2 separate regions of the Homo sapiens genome follow, and region 2 is linked to region 1. Evidence: fine-mapped QTL for protein levels in blood plasma. Region 1 holds a variant in brackets. A gene starts in the other region. All regions are shown on their reverse strands.

Region 1 (5,364 bases):
CCCAGGACAGAAATGAATTAATCTACAGTGACAGAAAGGTCAGTGTCATCAGAGGAGCAGGAGGGTGGAGGGACGGGGCAGGGGCCAGCCTGGGGGAGGGGATGTCCATGGTCTCGATTGTGGTCATGGCTCTGTGGGTGCAGCAGAATGTCAAAACTTATCAAACCGTACGTCTTAAATATGGGCATTTAATTGCATGTCAAAAAAATCTAAACAAAGCTGAAAATGGACAAAATACCACAACCAATGACATCTGACCGTAAAGAGATGGATTTAGGTAGAAGGAAGAATTCTTTAACACAGAATATGGGTCTCTGAGGGAAATGTTATCTCGTAATTTTCTCACTTTTGGTGTATTTAAGCTGTAGGACAAGGAGTGAACCCTAACATTTGGTGAGAGTCTGTGAAACACACTAGGAACCCCCATGCTGCTTGCGAGTTACTTCCGAGAAACAGCAGAATGTCACACCCTGTCACCCGCAGGTGCCGTCTGAGGGGCGCTCATCCCCACCAGCCCGAGGGCCTCCCCGCCAAGGGAGGGGTGTACTCCCTTCCACTTGGCGTCTGCTTGTGCATTGCCCCTCCCTGAACTCAAGACCTGAGCCTCTCTCGCCTGGACTATTTGGAAAGTCTACAAATGGAAGAAGGGGTGCTCTCACTGAGTTGTGTCCGCACAAGGGAAACTGTCCAGGAGCCACAGAAGCAACCGCAAAGTGAGCCTCTCAGACGTGGTTAAAGGGAAGCCAGGCAAAAAGACTGCACGCTGTTGGGTTTCATTTACTCAAAACCCTAAAACAGGCAGAATGAGTCATCTGTGGTAAACCAGCATTGGGGTTACCTCTGGGGGCCGGGAGGGAACCCTGGGGTGCCAGTCACGTCTGGCGTCTCGGCCTGGGTGGTGGGGATGGCTCGCCAAGCCTGTTTGTTGCACACGTGGCATGTCAGCAGAAACACGGGGCAAATACACACGTGAACACAAGAACCCCGGGTCCCTCCCTCATCTACCCAGCGACCCTCAGTCACCCCAGCCGGCTCCCTCTCGCCACCCACGGGCTTTCTGTGGAGGCCCCAGCCTGGCCCTGGAGGCCGTGACCCACCCCGCCTCTTGCCTGAGGTCAGCCCAAGAGACCTTCCTGTCTTCGGCCTGGAGAAGGAGCGGCCGCCAGGACCACCCGGGCCTCAGCTCCCTGGGAGGGCCCCTGGAGGACCGGGGCTGCTAAAGTCCACGGGCATCACCGCATCTAATCCAGGCCCTTTGATGTGGGTGATGTTGATACTCCCACTTTACAGGTGGGGAAACCAAGGCTTCAGCTTCCGTGGCCAGGGGATGAATGGGAGTGTGGTCTGGATGGTGGCTCCTGGACCGGAAGCATGATGGGAGCCATGAGGAATGCAGGTTCTTGGGTCCTTCCAGCTCTGCTGGATTGGATGCTCGTGGGGGCTCAGGGTCAACACAACCCCCCAGGACTCTGACCTGGGAAGTGGAGCAGCCTGATTTGGAGGCGAGGACACACCAGGAGGCACCTTGCCCTGTGGCCACTGCACTGAGGCTTGAGAGATCACTAGAGACAGCTCAGCCTCAGTGCTCCCGCGCCCCCGCCTCGGTGCTCCTGCGCCCCCGCCTCGGTGCTCCTGCGCCCCCGCCTCGGTGCTCCTGCGCCCCCACCTCGGTGCTCCTCCACTCCCACCCCGGTGCTCCTTCCACCTCTGCCTCACCCGATGGACTGTGCCTTTGCGTTTCTTGTGCACAAATCCTGCTGAAGTCTGGGCAGCTGTGTGTTTGATGATGGGCTTGTAGGAGAGAAGCATCTGGACTGCGCCGTGCAGATGGCGCTTCTCTCCAGGCACAGTCACATTCCTGGGAGGTTCCTGGAGGCCTCCGAGCCTCGTGCAGACCCAAGGCTGCCTCACCACCATGGCCACAGCCCAGTGCTGGCTGCCGGGCATCAAATCTGCAGAAATGCACGTGGCATAAAAGCACCAGAGACATCCGTCCAGAGCCGAGGGCTCCTCCCTGGCCCAACATTTTGTCCACGTAAGTCCACTTTTTGGCTGCTGCTCCCAGGCCTGGCAAGAACGCAGATCCCCACAGCCTCCTGCTCCCTGGCAGCCTGAGGACAGTGTCGTAGGCCTGGGATCCTCGGGCAGAACTGAATGCAGCTTTTCCATTGGAGGGCGCTGGGCCCACATGGCAATCACAGGTATGGCAGATGAACTCACGGGATGCTCCGGGACTCCAGGGGCCTCAGGAGAAAGGCCCACTGGCAGCGGGTTGCCCAGGGCTCCAGAGGGGGGCTCCAATGTGAACCAGTTGCTTGTGGCACAGCGGGTCACCCAGGATGGCCCTGCGTGGTCAGTGATAACAGGCAGTCACTCACAGCGCGACTTCACCCATGGTCACTCCCGGTGACCAGCACTGCACAGCCTGGGCTTTCGTCCCACATGGCACCTCCCTGTCCAGCCTTGGCCCAAGTGCCTGGGAAACAGACAGGGCACCGTGTGCCTGAACACACTCGGACAGTCGAGGCCCCCAGGAGAAGCAACAGGCAATGACTCGGTCCCCAAGAAGCTGAGCCTGTCCTTGCTGGGGTCTGTCATCTCCTCTTAGCCCCGCCAGGCTCCTGAAGCTGCCACATGTGCAGCGGGAGGTGGGTGGTTTGGGAGCAGAGCGAGGCTCTGGATGGACGGGCTTTACCACCAGCAGCCACCACCACCTGCTCTGCAGGGCCTGGGCCAGCCCTGAGGAGGTGGCAGACGGAAGGAGGGGCAGCACTGCCTCAGGTCTCCTTTACTGTCTTCCAGACATCAGCTCAGGGAGAGTAGGCATGTAGCACTGAGAAACAGGGTTGCTCCCCATGGCTGCCTCTGCTTCCCTGCCGCACAGTGTCTGTACACGGCCTGGGGACCTGCGAGGCCAGACCGCAGGGCAGGGGCCCACGGCTGTGCCAGCTTCTCTCCCAGGCCGTGGCGGTTATTACCTCCTGACTTGGCAGAGCATCCGGCTACTGGAGCCCATTGGTTCCGGCCAGTGCAGTCAGGACTTAGCTTCCCAGC[T/C]GTGATCTAAATCCCAGCCTCCCAAAGGCACAGCGCCTAAGTTCTCCCCTGCCAAGCTCACAGCCTTCTCCTTGGCAGGCTGCCCTTTCTCCTGCTGGACCAAACCAAGGAGCACGGTGACCCAGGGACACCACACTCGGTGTCAGCCTCTGAGGCCATGGAGCCACGCAGACCCAGCACAGGATTAGAAACAGACCTTCCCGGGAGGCAGAGAGCCAGGCCTCCTGGTTTATAGCATGACAAGGCAGCACTCAGGAGGACGCATCAATCCTTCTCCATGTCAGCACCTGTGACTGTGACCACTGGTGAGGTGGACATGCTTCTTTTTCCATTTTACAGATGAGGAAACTGAGGCCAAGGGAGGGTCAGCAGCCTGCCCTGGGCTGACTGGTGATGCAGCGAGGGTGGGGTGTGGGAGGGTGGCGGCGGCCCTTGCAGTCCCTGGGAACCTGCACCTCTTCCTGGGCGCTGTTCCCCTCTCTCTCCCAGGACCCTTGGGCCTGGCGTTTCTTCACCTGCGACCATCCAGGAGCTGGACCTGCCCTAGGGCGTCAGTTTCCAGGGAAGCCTCTGGCCTGTGTGTGAGCCTCCCCACCTGCCCGGCCACGGCCTCCACAGGCGCCCTGCGCAGCCCCGCCCCTCCTGGGGCAAAGGCTTTGCGAAGACTTTCTTCTCTGGCTCATCCCTTTAAGGAGGCATAAAAACGAACCCCGGGCCTCACAGGTCCGGAATGCGCCCCCCTCCACGATGGGAGCTTCTTGGCCTTGGCTGTGCAGGGGCCGCGGCTCCTGGGGGTCTGGCCGGATCTGCAGTAGTGCTGAATGAGCTGTGGCCAGGAAGACGCAATGAATAATTGTCACTTAAAAGGATAAACAGAAATTCCATTTCCCTTTTAAATACTTGAACATTTCAAAACATCTGGAGGACGCGATGCTTTTCCTTCCAAGCATCTCCGTGGAGTTTTGTGGGTTACCGCAGAGGATCGGCAGCATTCCTCTCTCAGGGAAAACTGGCCTGAGCATTGCATAACGCAGGCAGACTGCACCCCTCACGTCGCCTGGGGCCACATGCACATGTTTCCAAGAGACTTGCTGGAGAATCTTCCCCGGATCTTGACAAAGTTGGACATGGAAAGCACGTTGGTCCATCCAAGGTCCACAGAGCGACCCTGGCTATGAAAAATCATCCTCCGAGTGGGAGTCTGTCTGCCAGGAGTGAGGTGACACCGCACATGGCCTCAGGAGCTGGAAACGCTGGTGAATTCAGATGCAGCCAAAGCTTCTAACTTAGTCACAGTTATTAATTATTCTTGGTCTTATTGGAGCAGGAACCACTGCCATGCATCAGGCCAGCAAGGCTCACTCCCCACCGTAGGATCCCTGTGTAGACGGTCGCTCCATCAGTGTAGTTGGGTGTGTGGAGCAAGGGACTGGGCTGACCCTACCTTCCAAGCATCGATGTGGCCTTCAGCAGAGCAGGAGGAGATAGCCCAGGACTTGTACTTTGCAGTTGAAGTGCCAGACCTAAGAAATGCAAACCTGAGGATGGAAAGAGGGTGGAGAGGGGGGAGGTGTCTGGATTGGCCGTCCAGAGCAGCCCCAGCTGCAGCAAGTGGAACTTGGCTGGCTGCCTCACAGGCCTGGTGGCAGCGTCCCCAGCGAGGAGCCTGTCCCACATATGAAGGTCCCCATACCCTTAGCCCCTAGCTGAGAGTTTCACTGACCAGAGCTCCCTGAGTCCAGGGCTCCACTCAAGGGACTGCTGTCCCCGTTGGTGAAGAAGGCCTGTTGGGGCCAATGCTTCCCCCCACAGGGAAGCGGAGCTGTATTTTGTCGGACAGAACTTTGCAAGCCTGAAACAGCTGGTGGTGGCCCCAGAGCCAAGATCTGACCTCACTCCAGAGTTGAAGGGCACAGAGAAGGCACAGCTAGAGGCGGCAGGTACCCCTCAAAGCTCTCGGGAGAGGGTACAAAGTGGGACCTCCCAGCACCCTTGGCCTCCAGGCCTCAAAAGCCCTGAGAGGGCTGCATGCAAGGAGACAAAGCTGGAGAAGGATGTGGGAGGCAGGTGGCTAAGAAGACAGGCTGGAAAGGGACGTGGGAGGTAGGTGGCTTTGCTCTAAACAGAATCGTCTCAGTAATGTGACACTGCACATGTATAGGTAGGCTCGCTCATGGGCATAACCCTCTAAAACACACCTTTTATGGAGTGAAATTCACTTAACAGCCATCTTGAAGCATATACTTCGGCGGCATTTGCTGGATTCACGACGTTGTGCAACCTCTGCTTCTCCAGTTTCAGAACATTTCA
Region 2 (5,364 bases), not on the chromosome of region 1:
AGAGAGAAGCAGAGAGACAGAGAGAGAGACACATACAAAGAGAGACAGAAAGACACACACACCAAGAGACAGAAAGAGACAGAAAAAGGCATACGGAGAGAAATAAGATAGGTAGAGACAGAGAGGCAGAGACAGACTCAGAGGGAGAAACGAGAGAGACAGACAGTGAGGGACAGAAGGACAGTCAGACACTCACGCAGAGGTAGCAATGTTCCCTTGCTCCTGACTTCAGCCCTGCCCGGCCCCCTATTCGGAGCTGACCCACATCCCCGGACTCACCTGGAACATGCAGGCTGCGCTGGGGGCCGTGACCTGGAGCCGTGGCCAGGGGGACAGCATCCTGGAGCCAGAGTAGGTCCACGGGCTCTGGGGGTCCCTGAGCTTGGCAGCTCAGGTTGAAGGGGGTGTTGGCGGCCACAGTCCTGTCTTCGGGCTCCTCCAGGAAGTAAGGCAAGCCTAGCGGGGTGGGCAGTGGTAGAGGCTGGGGTCCCTCTGAGGCCCCAAGATGCCTGACTCACCACTAGGATGCTGTAGGCTTTGGGCAGCAAACCCACCCTGCAGGGTCATTGACTTGCCTTATCTGATCCCCGAGGGCACCTGAGCCATACCCAACACACACGTGACCCCAATATCTGATTCCTCCCATGTCAGACCCCCCACGATAGCTGAGCTCCTCATGTCTCTCTTCCAGAATGTCTGACAGCTCATCCTCATCTCATTCTATGGATGAGAAAAAAGAGACCGCTGGGGTCGTGGGGACAGGGGTACGTTGCGTGCCTCTGACGCCTTATCTGAAGACCAGAATGGCCTCCTGTGACCTGATGGTGTCTGATGCCTAGGACATCCAACTACCCCCAAGAAGTCTTTTCACCCAGAACATATAATCCCCCAGCCTTGGCACCATAACTTATATGGACTCCCAGCTTCTTGACCACCCAAAACTCTGACATTCTTAGGCTGTATGACGCTAGGTTCATCCTGAATCCTCCAGCACCCTTTGACCTTGACCCCTCAGGATTCCTGACTTCCCACAACCTATGAGCGCCACATGTCCTCTGACCCCTCAGGACCCCTGACCCCAGAGCTCACCCTCCAGCCCAACATAGCCAGGCTGGGACACGAAGGTCTGATGTCCCAGAAACACCAAACACTGGTACTGTCCCGTGTCGGAAAGCTGCAGGGAGGTGATTCTGACAGGGCAAGAGGAGAGACAGAGAGGTTCAGGGTCAGAGCTGGACACTGGGAGGGGGTCTGTCAGAACGGAAAGAGGGTGTCCAGTCTGGAAGCTCATGACAACCACGAAGTATGTCCTATTATTAACTCATTTTGCAGAAGAGGAAAACGAAACCTAGAGGTTCCATCACATGCTCAAAGCCGCACGGCTGACAAGTGGTCAAACTGGGGTTCCCACCCAGGTGGGCTTTCTGCCCTCTGTGTGACGGAGGTGGGAGTGGGATTCGGGGATGTGGCCACACACCTGAGCTGGCTGACCACTATCCAGTCATCCTGTTCATCCTCACCCAGGGGCACCTGGGTCTGGGTGCTGTCCGCGAGCTCCAGGATCTGTCCATCCCGAAGCCAATGTACCTCGGGGGGCTCTCCCTGAACCTGGAGCTGACACCGAAGGGTGCCCGTGAGTCCCCGGGCACCTGTGATATTCCCTGGGTTGCCCACGAAGGGACTTTCTTCAGCCTGCGTGCCTGGAGGGGAGATGGGAAGAGTTAGCTTAGGAACCCCCCAGCTCCTTCCGGCCCTCAGTTCCACCCTGTCCTTGCCTGCCCACCGGCGGCCAGGACCCCGCCAGGCCCTTAGGCCGACATAGTTGCAGAGTGACCTCAGAGTGGGGTGGAGGGCGGAGGCTCTGAGAGGAGGACGGGAGCCCTCCCAAGGGACTGGGATCTAGCGTCCATCCCGTCGGGAAGGAGGCTCGGGATCTGGCAGCCTCCCACGCCCTGCACTGCCTGGCAGGGCCAGCCCCTGCCCCCTCCGTCCTCTCTTAGGTCTCTAGAGACTTAACAGGTCGCGCTGGTGCTGGTGGATGGAGGGGAAGAATCAGGGGTTGGGGGAGAGAGATAAGGGTGGTGGTGGGGGGAGATAAGGGTGGTGGCGGAGGGAGAAGCCAGAGAAAGGCAGGGGAGATGAGACAGAGAGGAGCACAGATACAAGGCAAGACAGAAAAAATGAAGAAACAGCCCTCAAGAGAGAAGAAAAGGTGGGGGCGGAGGGGGGATACAGTCACAGAGGGAGGCTGAGAAGAGAGAGAGAGACTCAGAGAGCAGGGAGAGATAAAGGCAGAGACTGTGAAAGAGAGAGAAACAGAGACCCACAGAGATAGCAGAGCTGGAGGCAGAGACAGAGAGACAAAGTGAGAGCCTCCTCCCCAGAGATGGAGTGGACTGGTGGGGTAGGGACAAGTGGCGGGTCAGGGGGGTGGTGTTGGCAGGGAGAAGCGTTTTCCCCCAGGGCTCCAGAGCCCTCCTCATCCCACTGCCTGACTCGGTGCCCCTTCGGAAAGATTTCTTCCTTCCTGGCGACCCTCAGCTCAGCCCCTCTCCCCATGGCCCCCTTCTCAGGTCCAGCCCCCACCCCTGCCCTCAGCTTCTCCTTGTCTGTCTGTCTCTCCGGGTCCTCTCTTCTGTCCCCCCTGCCCTTCAGTTCCTCTCTCAGTCTTTCTCTCCCTCTGCCGCACTTGGTGTCTCTGAGTCTGTGTCTCCCTCCCTTGAAGTCCCTTTTCTGTGGTCCCAAGGAAACTCCCTAAGCCAGCCCAGGCCCCCCACACCTGCCATCATCCCCCACCTCCTACCCCTGCCCCAGCCCCTCCGAGGGGATCCCTGCCCCAAGGAGCCCCCATCACTCACCCCTGGGGGCCATGCACGCCCAGCCGCACAGCGCCAAGCACCAGGCCAGCGGGACCCTGCCCATCCTGGGGCACCGCCACGCCATGGGTGCCAAACTTTCCTCAGAAGTTGTTGGGCTCCCAGCGGGGGAGGGGGCAGGGCCGGGCTGTCCCCGGCCCTCCCCCCAGCTCCAGGCTCCCCGGATTTGGCACTGCCTGCCTGGCACAGCGGCAGGGGAGGCCCTTGCCACCGGCTCTGCCCAGCAGCCGCCTTCTCAGCACCCCTGCCTCCTTCCCTCACTCCCAGACTTGGGCAACCCTTTCTCCGCCCCTGGCTCCCCCTTTGCCTCCGCCCACCAGGGCCAGAGCCCAGGGGCCACCTGGACAATCAGGGGTTAACTCAAGAGAGGAGAGGATCAGCTCTTTCTTAAAGGGGCCAGGGAGGGAGCTGAGGAGGGGGAAGGGGACCCTGGTGGCTGTGCCCCCTGTCCTGAGCCAGTGAGGCCGTGTCTCTCTATCCGGGCTCTGGGCGCTGTCCCTCTGGGCTCTGTGTCTGGTAAACATTCCTCCAGAACTCCACTCCCCTCTCAGCTCAGGCCGTGACGCCCCTCTCCCCGCCTCCACCCCCAGCCCAGCCCCAGCCAGGCCTCCTTGGCCCTTCATTCCCCCTCACTCTCTCGGCTCCTCGGACAAGGACACACACACACACACACACACGCACGCACGCACGCACGCACACACACTCTTAGACGTCACTGACACACACAGGCTAGGACAAGCAGAGACACGCAGAGGGACCCAGACGGGCAGGGGCATGCTACTGGCCCACAGACACACTCAGACAAGCCAGGCCAGGAGCTCGATTCCTGGAGAAACCTCAGAGACAGGAGGACACGGCTGGGTGGGCATCCATGGGGGACACTTACTTGGGGAGACACAGATCTTCAGACACGCCAAAACCTGCATGGACGCCTAAATGGGACACCAAATACAGGCGACATGAAGGGGACCCAAGTTGGAATCCCAGTGCTACCACTAACTGTGGGCTACAGGCAAGTGACTGGCCTCCTGAGCCTCAGTTTGTCCATCTGTAAAATGGGAATAAGAATAGTTGTTGGCCGGGCACAGTAACTCACTCCTGTAATCCCAGCACTTTGGGAGGCCAAGGTGGGAGGATCGCTTGAGCCCAGGAGTTCGAGACCAGACTGGTCAATGCACTGAGACCCCCATCTCTACAAGAAGTTTAAAAATTAAAACTTAACCAGGTATCATGGCGTGTGCCTGTGGTCCCAGCTACTAGGGAGGCTGGAGTGAGAGGAACGCTTGAGTCCAAGAGATCGAGGCTGCAGTGAGCCCTGATCATTCCACTGCTCTCTCCTTCTGGTGGGACTGTGTGTCCTGGTTATTGCAGATCTGCTGCCTGCGTATCGGCTCTGCTGCACTTCCATTCCTCGGCCCTGTGTGTTTGGCACGTGGAGGGCTCTGCATGCCTGGATGTCTGTGAGGAGGAGGCTGGGCGTCTATCCCTCTGCTCTTGGCCACCTGTGTTTGGGTACTGGTATACCTACGGTGCATCATAAAGTCCTATCTGTTTGGCCTCCTGATGTCTCTTCTACCTGCCCCTTCCCAGCACCCCCGTCTGATCCTGCCTTCTCCTGCCTCTACTGTCACTCCTTTCTCCCATTTAGCAACCAGAGGACTGTTTCTGAAAGTCAAATCCTACCCTGTCCCTTCTCTGCTTGCCCATGGCCTCCTGCTGCCCTCAGGGCAAGCTCCCAGCTCCTTGTCACTGGCCACTTAGGGCCCTTCACCGTTGTCTCCCTGGGCTGTGTCTTTTTTTTTTTTTTTTTTTTTGAGACCCAGTCTTGCTTTGTTGCCCAGGCTGGAGTGCAATGGCTCGATCTCGGCTCACTGCAACCTCCATCTCCTGGGTTCAAGTGATCCTCCCACCTCAGCTTCCTGAGTTGCTGGGATTACAGGTGTGCACCACCATGCCAGGTTAATTTTTGTATTTTTGGTAGAGACGGGGTTTCACCATGTTGGCCAGGCTGGTCTGGAACTCCTGAACTCGTGATCTGCCCGCCTCGGCCTCCCAAAGGGCTGGGATTACAGGCGTGGGTCACTGTGCCCGGCCATGGGCTGCTGGCTTCTGTTGCTCCTTCCAACCTGTCTCCCACTCAACAGTCAGAAGGCTTCTTCCCAATCTCAAACCAAACCCTTTCCCACCTCTGCCCCAAACCTTTCAGCAGAACCCTAAACTCCTTATGTTTCTGTGACCCTCCCCTCGCCTCCCCAGGCTTCTCTCGCTTTCTCACCCAAAGAGCCCCCTCAGAGGACTTGGAGCAACCTCCTGCAGCACTTTGTCCCCAACTCTATCATCCCTTCTCCATCGCATCACTGCCTGGCCCCCCCAGCCCAATCTAGGTCCTCATATTGTTCACTCCCAACATGCTGTCCCTTTCCTTGGCAACACTTTGCCTGGGTTGTCATTATATATTTATTGGCATGATTATGTGTCTCACATCTGT

Alleles and levels. Alleles are on the strand shown, and positions count from the first base shown. The strength of an association depends on the size of the effect and on how common the allele is.
For the plasma level of the protein whose gene starts at base 3,113 in region 2, allele T in region 1 goes with a higher level than allele C (moderate association).

The links. PIP is the posterior inclusion probability: the model's chance that the variant is causal. Protein levels are from antibody-based Olink assays in UK Biobank. Linkage for the fine-mapping came from a reference panel and not from the study's own genotypes, which makes the PIPs less certain.
Region 2: it holds the start of AXL, and the variant in region 1 is fine-mapped to the plasma level of the AXL protein (UK Biobank, PIP 0.96).

The regions. Positions count from the first base shown.
Region 1 is chr13:113,926,658-113,932,021 of GRCh38, reverse strand. It overlaps SWINGN (SWI/SNF complex interacting GAS6 enhancer non-coding RNA), which reads left to right and starts at 3,031. Exons shown (of 1, transcript NR_047495.1): 1 at 3,031-5,364. It also overlaps a transcript of C13orf46 not described here. RefSeq lists an enhancer at 1,016-1,085. The variant T/C (reference allele first, on the strand shown) is at 3,055.
Region 2 is chr19:41,216,972-41,222,335 of GRCh38, reverse strand. It overlaps AXL (AXL receptor tyrosine kinase), which reads right to left and starts at 3,113. Exons shown (of 20, transcript NM_021913.5): 1 at 2,859-3,113; 2 at 1,478-1,700; 3 at 1,090-1,190; 4 at 280-456. The coding sequence starts at 2,943. RefSeq lists enhancers at 1-897, 3,148-3,972 and a silencer at 3,400-3,539.